Homo sapiens: one gene and its partner. The protein of the gene in region 1 purifies or fractionates together with the protein of each later gene. This does not show direct contact. Each region holds a gene or a part of one and is shown on either strand. Other genes may lie near its edges. The genes, in order: PDXDC1 and PAWR.

Region 1 (3,819 bases):
GTAATAATTTTCATGAAAACTACAGTCCGAAACGCCTTAGCAATTTGCTGATAGTTTGCGGTGATTAAACCAGGGGTTCCCAAATGCCAGTCCCTGGACCAGTGCTGGAATGGCTAAGAAAGAGTTGCTTGAACATAAAGATTTGTGGGTCTTACTTCCCACATATTTTGAGTCAATAGGTTGTGCCCAGGAATCTGTATCTTAAAGAATGACCCAAGTGCCACCAGTCTAGTCCAGGGCACCACTCTTTTTTTACCTGGTTGGCCATTGTCCCCTGTCAACTGACCTCTGACTTTCATACATTCTACACAGCCCATTCCAGACCATTCTCCACCTGGCAGAGAGGGTTATAAGTGGAAGTCACATGGTGTTGAAACCGGAAAGGTTCCCTTGTCCCCCTCGCAGGGCATGTGATGGGGGTGTGGCTCGCTTCTTCAGTGCCCCGCTGCTGCTCAGACCTCTAGGAGAGCATACAGACGGGCAGGCTGTGGGGCTCCGACCCCATGGCAGCATCTGGGGGTGAATGTTTTACAGCTCCTAAGGCTCCAGCGGGCATGTGTTACAGTGTGCTCTTTTAATTTAGCCGTCTGTAGGCAGCTTGTTTTAGCTCACTTAGACCCCCTTCCTTATCACAAGGACAGAGGGATTAATGTATCCCAGGTTCTTGTCTTGGTGTACCGGAAGAATGGGATCACATGTGGGCTTGGAGAATGAGTGCAAGGTTTTATTGAATGAAAGTAGCTCTCCGCTGATGGGGGAGCCAGAAGGGAGACAGATTTCCCTTGGAGTTGGGCCGCTCAGCGGCCCTGGCCAAACTCCGCCTCGTCCCCGTGGTTGATGGCCTGCTGGCTTGCCGGGGCCTGTCGGGGTGCTCTTCTGCCGGCCTGCTCTCCATGACCAGCCGCTTGTGTCTTTTTCCACCAATGTGTTCCTCTGGCCATCCAGCCACTTCTGTCTGCCCACTAGGGTCTCAGGTTTTTATAGGCCCAGGATGGTGGTGTGGTGGGCCAGCGTGGTCTTGGGAAATGCAACATTTGGGGGAAGGCAGGAGTGCTTGTCCTCACCTAGGTCCGTGGGGGTAGAGTCCTAGCCAGGGACCCGCCTTTCTCTCCCCAGCACTTCCCTTCCCCGCTTCTGTGTCATTTAAAGGGACCACGCTCTTCCCTTCCCAGCACTCCCGTATCAGTGTCACTTCCCTGCCCAGAGCCCCTGGGTATCTTACCATTTCGGTCGAACAAAGGCCAGGCTCTCCCATGCCCCATGAGGCCTGCACACTCTGCCCCGAATTCGCTTCTGCCTTCCCCCCTTCCACTCTCCCTCTTGTTCGTTGTGCCTCAGTCAGACCAGTCTTCTCCGCGCTCCAGAACACTCTGCCCTTTCCTACCGCAAGGGCTTAACACTCGGCGTTCCCTCTGTCTTACACACATTTCTCTCTTCTGGTGCCAGCTCCTCCTCACCATTTCGGTCTCCACTAAGTATCCACATCCTCAGCCTTCCCTGCCTATCGTGCCTGAGGGGACTCCATCATTTTCTATCAGAGCCCCCAGCTTCACTTGTGACACTAACAACCACATGGAGTGATTTTCTTTCTTTATGGTCTGTTTCCTCAACTAAAATGTAAGCTCCAAGATGACAGAAACCTTACCTGCCTTCTGTCCCAAGTGTCGGGCTCTGTGCCTGGCACGGGTTGGCACCCACTGTGAGGCCTAGTTAGATGATCGTGGCACTCACAGACCTCGCACGGTGCTTGGTAAACTAGTTAGTAACTTAAAACAATTGCTGTTTCCCCTTGAAATCCCTTGAAAGCAAACCTTTTCAAAAATGAAATTAATAATTCTGTCTTATGTGAATGTATTCAAGTGTTACATAGATCACGAGGAAAAAGAAATGTAGCCCTTCTGTCAGATAATACATGAGAATTCAGTAATACGAGTCAGTGCCCTGGGGCTAATATTGGGATGGGAATGATGTGGGGTTTGGAGGGTGTTTTTTTTGGTCAGCCGTGTTTCTGGGAGTGACTCCCTTTCTGTGTTTTGGTGTCAGATCCGGTGTTTAAAGCCGTCCCAGTGCCCAACATGACACCTTCAGGAGTCGGCCGGGAGAGGCACTCGTGTGACGCGCTGAATCGCTGGGTGAGAATGGCAGTCACCCCCCTTTCCTTTCAGGTCCCCGTCCATCACCATCCGACCTGCTGGTGAGGGTGACGCGTGCTCGTGTATGGGAACTGAGGCCCACAGGAGGAGCCGCCCTGCCAGTGCTGGGCCTGCTCTGGAGTTCTGTTCCCCATTGCGTTACCACCTCACGAGCTGGGTCACCTCTGGCAAGTCCTTCTGGCATTGCTCCCTCACTTTCCTTGCTGCTGTATAAGGCTGTGAGACAACAGGCAAAAGGTGGGCTGCAGGGCAGCTGCGGTGGGTTCTGGTGAGCCTGGGCAGCACAGCCGGGAGCCCCAGGCAGAGTCTGCCGAGCATCTGCAGCTGGCAGTGTGGAGCCAGGCCTGCACTTTGATAGCGTTTTGGGCACTGAATAGCAGCTCTAGGATTTGAGTCTGAAGGGTCTTGTGAACAGTGTGGGATGGCGGCAGCAGCAGTTCTAGCCAATGCTGGACACGCCCAGCCTAGCAGGGTTGGCAGATAAGTCCTGGTACATCCATGCTGGGGCTCAGCACAGCTGTGAGAGACCACAGAGCTGAGTGTCTCAAGCAGAAAGGAACTGGTCATAAACGAAATGAATCAATGCAGGTTACTAAGCAGTGTCAAGTAGCATGTTTTATGACAACAACTACAACTCCCTGCCCGCCACTAGGAGAAAAGACGCTGGGGGCAGACCACATGTCAGCAGTGGGTGTCGCTTAGTAATATATTGTGGGTCATTGTTATTTTCTTCTTTTTGTTTACTTGTATTTCCTAAATTTTTCTACAATGAACTTGTATTAATAAGAAAAAACCATAAAATTTACTGTTTTTAAAAAGCTGCTCTAAGTAATCAGACAGTCAAAAGAGCAGGAATCAGCTCTCCAGGAGGCTCTTTGGTCTGGGGCCGAGGGGATGAGGGTGGGTCCTGAAGACGTCTGAGTCCCTTGTTACAGGAGGGTGTTCATTGTGTCCTCCTCACAGCTGGGAGAACAGCTGAAGCAGCTGGTGCCTGCAAGCGGCCTCACAGTCATGGATCTGGAAGCTGAGGGCACGTGTTTGCGGTTCAGCCCTTTGATGACCGCAGCAGGTAAACCAGGCTTGGTGGACATCCCTTGCTTTTGTTCTGGGGCTGCTGGGTAGATTAGCTTGCCCTTATGATACTCCATTCTCCTAGAGTTATTAGCAGCTCTTTTTGGAGGGGCATTTTCTTTTCTTTTGGGCTAAATTTAGGTAGATTAGCATTCCCATGTAACTTACCAGAATCAGAATGAGAATTCAGAAGTCACCTGAATTGGCCGGGCATGGTGGCTCACACCTGTAATCCCAGCACCTTGGGAGGCCAAGGCAGGCAGATCATCTGAGGTCAGGAGTTCGAGACCAGCCTGGCCAACATAGTGAAATCCCGCCCCTACTAAGAATACAAAAAATTAGCCAGGCATGGTGGTACACACCTGCAGTCCCAGCTACTTGGGAGGCTGAGGCAGGAGAATCACTTGAACCTGGGAGGCCGAGGTTGCAGTGAGCTGAGATTACACCACTGCACTCCAGCCTGGGGGACAGAGGAGACTCCATCTCAAAAAAAAAAAAAAAAAAAAAAAAAGTCATCACATGAATTCCTTTTTTGTTGTTGTTGAGACAGGGTCTTGCTCTGTCACCCAGGCTGGAGTGCAGTGGTGCGATCATG
Region 2 (3,819 bases), on another chromosome or scaffold:
TTCATTTACCTTGTGAGCCAGCAATCCTAATACTAAGAATCTATCCAGGAAATCCATTGCATATATACAGAAACTATATATATAAGCCTTTCTAACACATTTTTCTTAGAGCGTGTAAAAAACCCAAATGTTCATCAATAAAGCTCTGATTAAAATATGGTAGGTACATCTATTTAATAAAATTATTATGCAGCTGAAGAAAGGAATGAGGAGAATCCACTTCTCTTAAGTATGGCAGATACAGGAATTCTCTTATTTCTCATGATTTCCGCCAACTTCTTCCTCCAGATGTATTTATCCCAGTTAGAAAAGATTGCTTAAGAATTTCTAGGATGCTTGTTATCAAAAGAACTGCACTGGTTGCTAGCAGAATTTTGGAGAGAAGTTGTGATTCATCAAGTAATCCTATACTAAAAGCTGCCTGGAACGTTAGATACATACTGTATCCACAGGGATACTATGTGTGATGAATAGGTTCCCAGTTCAGTGGATAGCAGTGTTGCCATGGGAAAGAGCATTCAGAATTTTAACTTCAGGTATCACAGTTCACCTTCCAGTTCATCTCCAAGATGATTTGTCTCATCTTGGTAACTCATTCATTGTTTTATGAAACATTTACCGAGTGTTTTGTTTCTTCCTTTCTTTTTTCTTTTAATATACTGGTAAGGGAGTCTAGTTGAGGGGGCAGGAGGAGGGAAAGTTAGTGTTGTGGGGCTGGGTCTCAGAAAATGAAAACAAAGACAAATAAAATAGCATCCCAGTGCTCTGGGAGTGCGTGGCTACCTGCCTCAACTTTTGCTTTCTGTTAATATTAATCTATGATAATTTAAGAATTCCAACTTTAAGCTAATGATGTTGGAGCCTAGGTGAGGGATTTTTGAGTCCATATGCTGGAGAATAAGTGATGATTGCTTTCACACAGTAGAAGACTAGAGATGAGACCATTCTTTATTCTTTTCCAGATCTCATACTTTTGCTTCTCCTACTGTTCATTAAATGATTGACCTCTCCTCCCCCTTTTAAAGCAACTCCTTGATTTAAAATGCCTTTTATGCTATTTTATTCTTTCTGTTCTAGGACCTCTATCAGGTATTTTTGTTATTGTAGTTTTATACATTTTAACATTAACTAGAGTGTTTGGTCATACCTCTTTTTTAAAAAAGTAATTTTTTTGATATCTTATGTATTTTTTCTTCCAGATGATGCACCACTACTTTCCAAATAAATTTCTTCATGATTTTGATTGGAATTTTAATTTATGTGTTAAGAGACTGTTGACACCTTCACAATACTAGATTTTTCTTAAGAGCAGGTTTTAATTTGTATTCTTCAGTAAAGTCTTATAGCTTTTTTCATGCACGTACTGTTTTTTAGTTTTTTAATGGTTGTTACTAAAAATTTTGTAACTGGCTATTGATGTTACTTTGGGAAATTTTTTGCTTATTTACTGAAAAAAATCTTAACTCATAATTCTAAAATGTTTTTGTTTTTTACAAAATCATTTCCTCTGATGGTAATTTTGCCTCCTTTCTAATGTTAAAATCGCCTATTCTTCTTACCTAGTTCTATCAACTAGCACTTTCAGAATGATGTTAACAATTATGTTAATAGTGGACATCAATGTCTTGAGTCTGATTTTACTTTAAATTTTGCTGGTATGTTGTCATTAAACAAGATATTGTCTAGTGATTTGAGAAAGTTTTTGAAAGTCCTGAGAGAGATTTTTTTTTTCTAATAAGGACTAATTTCTTAACACTTTGGTGTCCCATACCAGATTTCTTTCACTGACTCTGTTTCCACCTATGATATATCATTTTTCATAGGATACAATTGCCTATGTCATTTAACTAGTCACTTAACTAGTCTTTTCACTTTTGGTCTTGTTCCTGTTCTCTGCATTGCTATTTCCAGGTTCTTCCCAAAAAGAATTTTGATCATTCCTTATCCCAAGGAACTGTATAGCATTGTAACATCATTCCAAGCTATGGAGTGAGAAGTCTAAACTTCTTGGGTTATCTATTATTTATGTTCCCTCTATGCCTTTCGAGTCCTCACTTTTGTCAAAAACTGTAATGGCTTTGAGATCATACCCCACTTGCTGGCTAACACGTTAGCTTGTGTATGCTGGCAAAAGATACTAGTCTCCTGGGTTAGTTAGAGTCAAGAACAGTTTAGACTCAGCAATAACAGTAGCTACAGTATCATAATTTTCTTGTGCTGTTTCCCCAAGCCCCACTCTTGGCAGGTTGATATGACAAGGGCCAGGTGACACCAAATCTCAACCTGCATGCTCCTTTCATTTGCCCTTTCCATTTCTGTCCTCAGACTTCTCTGTATCATCCTAATGTTGTAAGACTCCATCTCAGCTAGAAACCATCATTCTGAGCAAACTATCACAAGGACAGAAAACCAATCACTGCATATTCTCACTCGTAGGTGGGAATTGAACAATGAGAACACTTGGACACAGGGTGAGGAACATCACACTCTGGGACCTGTCGTGGGGTTGGGGGAGAGGGGAGGGATAGCGTTAGGAGATACACCTAATGTAAATGACGAGTTAACGGGTGCAGCACACCAACATGGCACATGTATACATGTGTAACAAACCTGCACATTGTGCACATGTACCCTACAACTTAAAGTATAATAATAATAAAAAATAATAAAAAACACTCCATCTCAGACAGATGCTTTCTTCCATGTCCTCCATTGTAGACCTTGTCTTTATCAAGCTTGGTACCCCTTTCAGTATGTTCCTCCTATCTCCAAATATTCCAGTGCACCTTCTTGGTTTGCACAATGGCTTCAGTGTTTTCTTCTCTCTGCACAACTTTTTTTTTTTGTCCAATTCCTATTGTCTTCACTGCCATACTGTTATACTTTGCTGTGATCAGTTCCTTAGTGTCTCTACAAAGAGGTGTGTGGTTTTTTTTGTTTTTGTTTTTGTTTGTTTATTTGTTTTTGTCTGGAGGGGGTGTGAGTTCTCATGCAGAAACCTTTAGGGCAGTGTATTGGTTAGGAATGTATTCAGTTGCAAGGAACGGATAACCCAGCCCATGATGTGTATAATGGATAGAGATTTGTTTCTATTTTGTTTTTCTTATGTAGAAAGTGTAGAGTTAGATAATTTCTAGTGTTGCTTCTGTTTTTTAGCAGCCTTCTCTTGTAAGCTTTTCCAATATGCTGTTACATGTGTAATTCTCTTTTTTTATATATCTGCAATTCCAAATTGTAGCCATTCTTTAAATTACAAGATTTTTTATAGTCTTTTCTAACTCTCCAGGTAAAAATACTCTTCCTTTATATGCTCATAGAATATAAAGCTAGAAACTGGGCCTTTATCACTAAGTTATCTATCTATCTATATATATGTATTATCTTTCCTACTAGATTATAAATTCCATTTCTTTAATGCATCCTTTGTTACCTTCTGCAGAATGCCTTGTTTAAGGTAGACGTAGTTTACTTATTGAATGAATGATAAAGAATGAATAAACCTTTCCTTTAAGAAAACCCTGTCACTGATGTTTGGAGTTTAGGGAAAAGATTTGTTGGCAGTGGTGTGGATATGGAAGTACAAGTTTTAAGCAGATAATTTATAGGAATTAAATGTACATATTGCTGAAAGAAAAATACTTTTATTATGCAAACTAATTTCTGAATGCACAAATATTTCTTTAATACTATCAATATATTTTCACATATTATCGAAACAGTCTATTAATAGTAGAAATAAAATGGAAACTCTTTTTTTCTTTCAGTGCTTAGATGAGTACGAAGATGATGAAGCAGGGCAGAAAGAGCGGAAACGAGAAG

The links.
Region 2: the proteins of PDXDC1 (region 1) and PAWR fractionate together in Homo sapiens (co-fractionation; one large-scale study listed by BioGRID). This does not show direct contact.

What each region holds. Positions count from the first base shown.
Region 1 is NC_000016.10:15,026,835-15,030,653, forward strand, and holds part of PDXDC1 (pyridoxal-dependent decarboxylase domain-containing protein 1), read left to right. Parts: intron 1-2,043; coding exon 2,044-2,132; coding exon of another isoform or gene 2,133-2,198; exon of another isoform or gene 2,199-2,971; intron 2,972-3,116; coding exon 3,117-3,222; intron 3,223-3,819.
Region 2 is NC_000012.12:79,621,153-79,624,971, reverse strand, and holds part of PAWR (PRKC apoptosis WT1 regulator protein), read left to right. Parts: intron 1-3,764; coding exon 3,765-3,819. UniProt on the Homo sapiens protein: Pro-apoptotic protein capable of selectively inducing apoptosis in cancer cells, sensitizing the cells to diverse apoptotic stimuli and causing regression of tumors in animal models.